Homo sapiens: one gene and its partner. The protein of the gene in region 2 interacts with the protein of the main gene of each other region in a pairwise test. Each region holds a gene or a part of one and is shown on either strand. Other genes may lie near its edges.

Region 1 (4,151 bases), on a different chromosome or scaffold from region 2:
GTTGCAGTGAGCCGAGATCATGCCATTGCATTCCAGCCTTGGCGACAGAGCGAGACTCCGTCTCAAAAAAAAAAAAAATAAAAATAAAAAAGAAAGAAACCGGGAAAAGCACTAAAGTTCTATTTTAATGATCTCATGTCTATGCTCAAAGTGATTTATTTATATATTTACATGTAGAGTGGGTCCGTTGATACTGAAATTTGTATCTAGTACCCTAAAATAAAAAAGCAGAATGCCATATTGTCTGGTGGATATAAAAATCGAAGTTTCTTTCCTTCTGAAAATCATTACCATATGCTCAAGAAAAACGGTTCCATTTAGGACAAAATTTCGTTTTTATCATTGTAAGCAAAAAGTTCTCTTTTGATGTGGTGGGCGTGTTTGTTTCCAGTTGTGTGGTTAATGCTGATGTTGTTGGAACTGATACATTCCCCTTCTGGGATGCTGGGATGGGGACTCTTTCTCTTGCCAACCCTGGTGATGAATTAGAGGGTTTTGTGTGTGTGTGTGTGTGTGTGTGTGTGTGTGTCTTTAAAAATGTCTAGTTGCCAACATTCCATGGGCTCTTTTCTGATAACACTGAGGCTGTTTGTGCTGTGGTCTGCACTTTTTGCCCCCTCTCAGCAAAACCACATGTCATAGAATAGTTGTTGGCTTCTGGATGTGTGAGCAGAACTGCCCCACTGTGCCAGCCCAGTGGAGGCAGAGAGACCCACAAGTTCCCAATTTAGAAAGCTTTTCATAGCTTCAGAACAGGGGTCGGCAACTGCTTTCTGTAAAGGGCCAGGGAGTAAATATTTTCAGCTTTGCCGGCCCTGTGGTCTCTGTTGCAACTTCGCCACTGTAGCCTCAAAGTAGCCACAGACAATATGTAAATAGATGTGTTCTAGTCTGTCTTCTAGTAAAATTTTATGGATCCTGAAATTGGAATTTTATATAATTGTATATAAATTTTATTCATTTTAATCCTATAAGATATTCTTCTTCTTTTGATTTTTTTTTTCAACCGCTTACCAATGTTAAAGACCATCTTTAGCCCTCAGGCCATACAAAGTCGTCTGTGGGCACCCAAGTCGGAGGAAGTGTCACCCTGGGGTGATCCAGAGGGCTTTTTGCAGCACCAGCACTGGATGCCTTGGGGAGCAAAGGACACTTTCTGAATCTCGAACCTTCAAAACTTTGAAACTTAACCGATATTTTCCTGAAGTTTCCTTTAACAGTGCATTATGGATTTAACATACATGAGTATGTCTAAGCCTTTTTTGAACCTGTTTACATTTTCAACTCGGAGAGCTTCTGAGAGTAATCAGTTACATCTGTTAAATTACCCACTGAATGAAGAAGTATTCCCCTTCAATTATCCCCGAAACTACAATAGTAAAATGTAATTCAGAAAATAAATATTCATAGTCTCAACTACTTAAAGGGGGTCTGGGGACCCACAACATGTTACCGGTTTTCATTTTGCTGGGGCTCGCATTTGAAGCAAGGGCTCTAGTGAGGAGGTGGTGTAGACTCAGCGGGTTATTTAGGTCCGTGTGAAGCCGAGTTGCCTGCCCAGCACCTATAGCTCAACTAGGTTTTATTGTTCTCTACCTGTCAATAGTTGATTTATGATGGATTCCAAGAGAAAAGCTAAGGACAGCCTGGGGTACATCAGACGTGGTCTCAGGGAGGTCTTCGTGGAAGTCAGGTGGGCTGGGTCTCTGTTCACCTTCTAGGGGTCTCCTGTCCTGTCCCACGTCCAATACCCACATCTCAAGAGTTTGTGTTTGAAATAAAACTCTTCTCTTCCCTTCTTTCAGGAATACTTGGACCTCAGTCAGCCTCTCGAACCGTATTCACCTTGTTATCCTGACCCAAGATGAAATAAAACGTCTCTCTTCCCTTCTTTCAGGAATACTTGGACCTCAGCCAACCTCTCGAACAGTATTCACCTAGTTACCCTGACACAAGAAGTTCTTGTTCTTCAGGAGATGATTCTGTTTTTTCTCCAGACCCCATGCCTTACGAACCATGCCTTCCTCAGTATCCACACATAAACGGCAGTGTTAAAACATGAATGACTGTGTCTGCCTGTCCCCAAACAGGACAGCACTGGGAACCTAGCTACACTGAGCAGGGAGACCATGCCTCCCAGAGCTTGTTGTCTCCACTTGTATATATGGATCAGAGGAGTAAATAATTGGAAAAGTAATCAGCATATGTGTAAAGATTTATACAGTTGAAAACTTGTAATCTTCCCCAGGAGGAGAAGAAGGTTTCTGGAGCAGTGGACTGCCACAAGCCACCATGTAACCCCTCTCACCTGCCGTGCGTACTGGCTGTGGACCAGTAGGACTCAAGGTGGACGTGCGTTCTGCCTTCCTTGTTAATTTTGTAATAATTGGAGAAGATTTATGTCAGCACACACTTACAGAGCACAAATGCAGTATATAGGTGCTGGATGTATGTAAATATATTCAAATTATGTATAAATATATATTATATATTTACAAGGAGTTATTTTTTGTATTGATTTTAAATGGATGTCCCAATGCACCTAGAAAATTGGTCTCTCTTTTTTTAATAGCTATTTGCTAAATGCTGTTCTTACACATAATTTCTTAATTTTCACCGAGCAGAGGTGGAAAAATACTTTTGCTTTCAGGGAAAATGGTATAACGTTAATTTATTAATAAATTGGTAATATACAAAACAATTAATCATTTATAGTTTTTTTTGTAATTTAAGTGGCATTTCTATGCAGGCAGCACAGCAGACTAGTTAATCTATTGCTTGGACTTAACTAGTTATCAGATCCTTTGAAAAGAGAATATTTACAATATATGACTAATTTGGGGAAAATGAAGTTTTGATTTATTTGTGTTTAAATGCTGCTGTCAGACGATTGTTCTTAGACCTCCTAAATGCCCCATATTAAAAGAACTCATTCATAGGAAGGTGTTTCATTTTGGTGTGCAACCCTGTCATTACGTCAACGCAACGTCTAACTGGACTTCCCAAGATAAATGGTACCAGCGTCCTCTTAAAAGATGCCTTAATCCATTCCTTGAGGACAGACCTTAGTTGAAATGATAGCAGAATGTGCTTCTCTCTGGCAGCTGGCCTTCTGCTTCTGAGTTGCACATTAATCAGATTAGCCTGTATTCTCTTCAGTGAATTTTGATAATGGCTTCCAGACTCTTTGGCGTTGGAGACGCCTGTTAGGATCTTCAAGTCCCATCATAGAAAATTGAAACACAGAGTTGTTCTGCTGATAGTTTTGGGGATACGTCCATCTTTTTAAGGGATTGCTTTCATCTAATTCTGGCAGGACCTCACCAAAAGATCCAGCCTCATACCTACATCAGACAAAATATCGCCGTTGTTCCTTCTGTACTAAAGTATTGTGTTTTGCTTTGGAAACACCCACTCACTTTGCAATAGCCGTGCAAGATGAATGCAGATTACACTGATCTTATGTGTTACAAAATTGGAGAAAGTATTTAATAAAACCTGTTAATTTTTATACTGACAATAAAAATGTTTCTACAGATATTAATGTTAACAAGACAAAATAAATGTCACGCAACTTATTTTTTTAATACTCGTGTCTTACCAAATGGTTTCCTGTGCTTGGAGGTGCTGACTGAGTGCTGTTGTGAATGCAGGAAGGGCAGGGCTGCCAAGGGTCTTATGTGCTACACACGGGGGTGACTTGCCAGAGGGGTTGACTGAGACCAGCAGTACCTGTGACAGGTTGAGGTTGATCCAGTGGAAAATCTGAATCAGTTGGTTGGAGCCCTGGCTCGGTTGCTTACTGGCACCTCAATGGAATCATCGTTCCTTTCTGAGCCCTACCAGTTCCCCAGAGGAGCAAACAAAGAGCCACATGGTAGAGAGCTTTGCAAACTGGAAGGTGACCTAAGGATGACAGGTATTGAGTAGGGAAGACGTTCAGAACATCTGAATCCTGGGGACTTAAAAACCTTTTAGGCTGTTTTCTTCATGATGTATGGAGAGAAGGATTTGCTTCAAATTTTCCAAAAGAAAACTTGGACAAATGTTCGAATAATTATTTATTTTCATACCACCAACGATCTGAAGAGGGAAATGGAGTTTTGCCTGTCAGTTAACAAATGTGAATCTGTGACTCTTAAGGGTCTGTT
Region 2 (5,612 bases):
GAATCTATAAAAAGCCTCTTACAACTAATAAGTGAGCTCAGCAAGGTCATAGGATACAAGATAAGTATTCAAAAATCTTTTGTATGTCTGCATGTTAGCACTGAACACGTGGGCACCAAAATAAAAAATAAATACAATTGATAGTCGCTTAAAAAATAAACACTCTACAGCATTGTAGGATAACTATGGGCAACAATACTATATAGTTTTAAATAACTAAAAGGAGGATAATAAATGCGCCCAACACAAAGAAATGATAAATGTTTGAGATGATGGATATGCTAATTACCTTGATCTGATCACTACGCAATGTGTTTATATGATTATATACCCTATAAATATGTAAAACTATGATGTATCAATTAAAATATGTATAGTTTAAAAAGAACACTCAGATGTAAATCTAATAAAATATTAATAGGACTTGTATGCTGAAAGCCTAATGGCAGAATCAAAGATCTAAATAAATAGAGAGACGTACTGTGTTCATGGATTGGAAGACTTAATCTAGAAAAGATGTCAGTTCTCCTCAAATTGATACACAGGTTTAATTAAATTCCTATCAAAATCTCAGGAAGATATTTGTAGATATAGACAAGAGTATTGTAAAATTTACATAATGTGGCAACAAAACTAGAACAGCTAAAACAATTTTGAAAAAGAACAAAAGTTGGAAGCATCAGTCTACTCTATATCATGACTTATTATTTAGCTACAGAAATCAAGATTATATAGTATAGGCAGGGGGATGGACATATAGATCAGTGGGACAAAATAAATAAACCCAGAAACAGACCCACATAAATATGCCCAACTAATTTTTGACAAAGATGCAAAAGAAATTCAAAGGAGGAAGGACAGATAACTTTTTCAACAAATGTAGCTGAAGCAACCAGACACTCAGAGACAAAAAACCAAACCAAAGTTTCACGCCTTATTAAAAAATGGACTCAGAATGGATCATGAACTTAAATTTAATGTAAAATTATAAAACTTGGAAAAAGCGTAGGAGAAAACCTTCGGGATCTAGTGCTAGGCAGAGAGTTCTTAGATTTGACACCAAAAGCACAATCAATAAAAGGAAATATTTATATATTGCACCTTATCAAAATTTAAAACTTTTGCTCTGAAAAAGGCTCTTTAGAGGATGAAAAGCCAAGCTATAGGCTAGAAGAAATACTTGCAAACCACATATCTGAAAAAGGACTAATATCTATAATATATAAAAATTCTCAAAACTTGACGGTTTAAAAAAATCCAATTAGAACATGGGCAAAAGACATGAAGGGACAGCTCATCAAAGAAGATATATAGAAGAAAAATAAGCACATGAAAAGATGTTCAACATCATTAGCCATCAGGGAAATGCAAATTAAAACCGTAATAAGCTACCACCACATATCAGAATGGCTAATATGAAAAATAGTGAAGTGATAATTACTCAAGGTGATGGATACCCTAAATACCCTGACTTGATCATTACACTATTCTATGCATATAAAATATCATATGTACCTCAGAAAAATGTACAAATATTATATATCAGTTTTTAAAAAAGAAATGAAAAAGGTAACTCAAAGGAGTTCCTTTGTGGTGACAAACGAGTTCTGTAGCTTGTGATGGTGGCTATACAAACATAAATGTGTTAAAGATGCATAAAGCTACAAAAAATGAATTCATGCAAAAACTGGTGAAATGTGAGTAAGGTCTGTAGTCTAAACAACTGTATTTGCCAATGTCAATTTCCTGGTTTTGATAATGAAATATACAATTATATAAGACGTTAGCGTTAGGGGACACTAGGTGATGGGTACATGGGACCTCTCTGTATTATTTTTGCAACTTCTTTCGAGTCTATAATTATTTCAAAATAAAAATTTTTAAAAACAGTGACAACACCAAATGCTGGTGAGGATGCAGAGAAACTGGATCACTTATACATTGCTGGTGGGTATGTAAAATGCTACATTTACTCAAGAAAACAGTTTGGCAGTTTCTTTAAAAAGTAAACATGCAACTACCATATGATCCAGCAATTGCACACTGGGCATTTATCCCAGAGATATGAAGACTTAGGTTCAAACAAAAACATGTATACCAATGTTTATTGCAGCTTTATTCATAATACTCAACATCTAGAAACAATGTACAGATCATTCAAAGCGTGAATGGTTAAACAAACTGTGGTATATCCATGTCATGGAATACAATTGAGCAATTTAAAAAAAAAGATTAATACAAGGAACAACCTGGATGAATCTCCAGATAATTATGTTGAGTGAAAAAAAGCAATTCCAAAAGATCACATACTGTTTGATTCCATTTAGATAATGTTCCTAAAAAGATAAAATTTTAGAAATGTAGAGTGGATTAGTGGTCACCAGTGGGATATGGAGCAGGGTGGGCATGGGAGGGAAGCAGTGTGACTCTGAAGGGCAACAGGAGGGATCCTCCTGATGATGAAATTTTTCTATACCTTGACTATATCAATGTCAACATCCTGATGTGATACTATACAGTTTTACAAGATGTCAGTAATAAGAGAAACCGGGTAGAGGGCATAGAAAGTCTCTGTGACTTCTTAAAACTGCATGTAAATTTACAGTTATCTCCAAATAAAAAGTTTAATATAAAAAAGTTAGTCTGAATCTACTATAAATCTGCTTCTGTCATCTGAAATAATTATTGCTTCCAAAAGTCTTCTCTTTGCTATAATTTTGTTAGCAGCCCAAAGCTTAAAGTTTCTGAATTAACACTGAGTATTACAAACATTTAAAGGAAACACACCTAGCACCTTAGGCAAAAATATCTGCCCAAACAAATTTTCCTGCAGAAATCTCATCAAGGACACATATTAGCTTACAAAATAATTAACTGTTTAGATGTCATTGATATGTTCTTGCTAATACTGCATACTAATTGAGATTTTTTTGGTTTTATTATTGTTCAATTCCCTCAAATTATTTCTTTCCCTTCAAAGAGCTATGGGAAATTTCTTTTTTTAGTTAAAAAATTTCATCTGTAAAATGAGTATATTTCATTAATATTTAAACAAAAGGCAAAGTTTCCTCTCCCTAGAGGAATCTTTGTTGTCCAGTCTTCTCCCAGAGGAATATTTGTTGTCAGCTTATTTCCTTCCATATTACTTTTTCTGTATTTCTAAACAAATATACAGTTGTGTGTATGTGTGATTTTTTTTTTACAAAGGTAGGAACCATACTGTTTATACTGTTCTTCAAAATTTTTCCTGCTTTAAAATGTCTTGAAAATTCACCTATCTGTATGTTTAGATTTAATTTAGCTCATTCTTTTCAACTGCCTCACAGTATTCTGCTAATGATGTATCATAGCCTAACCATTCACCTACTGACACTTAGGATGGTTCTAATACTTGCTATTGCAAGCAATGTAGCCATTAAGTGAAAATCCTTGTACATGTTTCTTTGAGCACAAATGAGGTTATTTCTCTAGAACAGAAACTCAGAAGTAGAACAGGAGCTTTCAATGTGTGGTCAATACTGCTGTTTGGCTGAACCAATACCTGTTCCCACCTATTTTCAATCTTCTCCCCTCCTGCCTCCCACAGCAAAGGCTGGTTTAAAAGCTGGAAACTCACTTTCCTCACTCTGTTTGCAGCAAGGGGTAGCCATGTGGCCTGGTTCTGGCCAATTAAACATCAGCAAAGTTTTCTGGGTGGTCCCTAGGAATGTTTTTGCGTTTCTGCTTTCCAGGTAAAAGGAATACACAAGACTGGCACTCTTTTTCCAGCCCTAAAGGTGGCTGTGGTGTTTGGAAGGGTGGCAGCCATGCTATAACATGAGGGAAAACCAGGAGAATCACTATGATGTTGGCCCTGGTATCAATGAGTTGCTGAAAAAGCTATCAGCAGCCTACCTCAGACAGCTTATTATGTGGGAAGAATAAACTCCTATTGGTTTAAGCTGCAGTAAATCTGGTTTTCTGTTACTTGCAGCCAAATGTGTTCCTAATTGATTCAGTATTAAATTACTCTCTAAAAACTCTGTACTCACTTTATTCTCTCACAAAAGTCTATTAAGTCATTTTCCAAACCTTTGTCTACTTTGAACATTGGCAGTCATTTAAATGTTTAACCAAGCTGATGCATGAAAAGGTTTCACATGAAGTAGAGCACAATTTCATATATTTATTGGCCATTCAGATTTCTTCCTCTACGACTTTCTTGTTCCTAACTCTTGTCCACTTTTCTACTGTACTGTTGGACATTTTCCTATTAATGTGTAAGAGGAAATTTCCAGATTGCAAAGTAGGCTGAGTTAAACTTACAGGGAAATTTGTCTCTTTATCTTGACATTATCAACCAAATCAAACACAACTGTAAGATATGAGCATTCTGTGACAGGCCAGGCTGACAGTGACAGTCATCTCTGAGTTGTGCACCACCACGTGGCAATGTGTCAAGAAGTAATTCAACTTGGTGCAAAACACCACAGCCCATGCTTAGTACTTCCTTTGTAAATCTGTATCTAAAGAAAGATTTATGGAATCATGACACAGTGGTGAACCAGGCAGAGTCTTTAATGTACATCATCTCTTTGAACCCTCAGGTCACACCCCAGAGGTAGTCATTACTATTCCTATTTTACAGAATAAATGATGAAAGTAAACATGTAAAAGCAATAGTTTCTTCCCTATTATAAAACTTAAATATTTAAAATATTCCAGGCCCAATATTTTTAAAACAAAATAATTATCTCAAAATAAAATTATGTAAAATACATTTTTACATAATGTAAAATTATGTAAAAATGTATTTTACATAATTTTATGTGCCCATCTGAAGATATCAACATGCTTAAGCTAGAAACATTGCTGAACCGGTTTACTGGTTTATAAATCTGAAGAAATTATTCCAACATTTGACTCTAGAGTTTATTGCGACATTATAGGTAACCAAAATTATTTCCATTTTTTAAAGTGAAGAACTAAATTGAGTAGGATTTCAATGCTTCAGCAAGAAGGACCTACTAGCCAACCACCCCACCCCAGGGCTGCAGGTAAAGAATTCCTCTAATCGGTTAACAAACAACCAATCTGACACTGGCAAACAAAATAGGCTGCTAAAGATAATAAAAGATTGTCATGAAAAGTAATGTAAACAAGTTGAATAGAACAAGCACTATCCTGGAGTATTTGTACATGGTTTGGATTTTGGATAGATTGATTCTTTGTTTTAAAAATCCTAGCACCTAGAGGAAAAGGGAAAGTTGGCAGAGCTCCTGCTCCTGCTCCTGGAGTCAGGTGGGGGGCAGCAGGAGGTCTGAGGCTCTGACAAATATTTCCCTGCTTTGTGCCACACCTCTCCTCAAAGAGCTGTGGATTCTCTCTGGCAAAGCATCACACAAAGCACTCAATCCACAGCTGGTAAGGAGCACAGGAAGCAAACCTCCTTGATGCCTCCAACCAAACGCTCCCTGAGGGCACACACCCAGCCAGGGCTCCAAGAACTAACAGCCCCTATGGCAGGAAGTCCAGATCACCAAGCAGCTGCCCACTTGGGTCCCAGAGAAATACGGGGATTTACCTGGAGCACTCTCTTGCAGAATTTTTTAGACCATCTGAAAGGCACAGAA

The links. The genes of interacting proteins can lie anywhere in the genome.
Region 1: the proteins of CTDSPL (region 2) and FGFR2 interact in a two-hybrid assay, tested with the Homo sapiens proteins (one study listed by BioGRID and IntAct).

What each region holds. Positions count from the first base shown.
Region 1 is NC_000010.11:121,477,768-121,481,918, reverse strand, and holds the end of FGFR2 (fibroblast growth factor receptor 2 isoform 1 precursor), read left to right. Parts: exon of another isoform or gene 1-95; intron 96-1,805; coding exon of another isoform or gene 1,806-1,868; exon of another isoform or gene 1,869-1,897; coding exon 1,898-2,062; 3' UTR 2,063-2,248; coding exon of another isoform or gene 2,249-2,338; 3' UTR 2,339-3,587; downstream 3,588-4,151. UniProt on the Homo sapiens protein: Tyrosine-protein kinase that acts as a cell-surface receptor for fibroblast growth factors and plays an essential role in the regulation of cell proliferation, differentiation, migration and apoptosis, and in the regulation of embryonic development.
Region 2 is NC_000003.12:37,863,909-37,869,520, reverse strand, and holds part of CTDSPL (CTD small phosphatase-like protein), read right to left. Parts: intron 1-5,612. UniProt on the Homo sapiens protein: Recruited by REST to neuronal genes that contain RE-1 elements, leading to neuronal gene silencing in non-neuronal cells.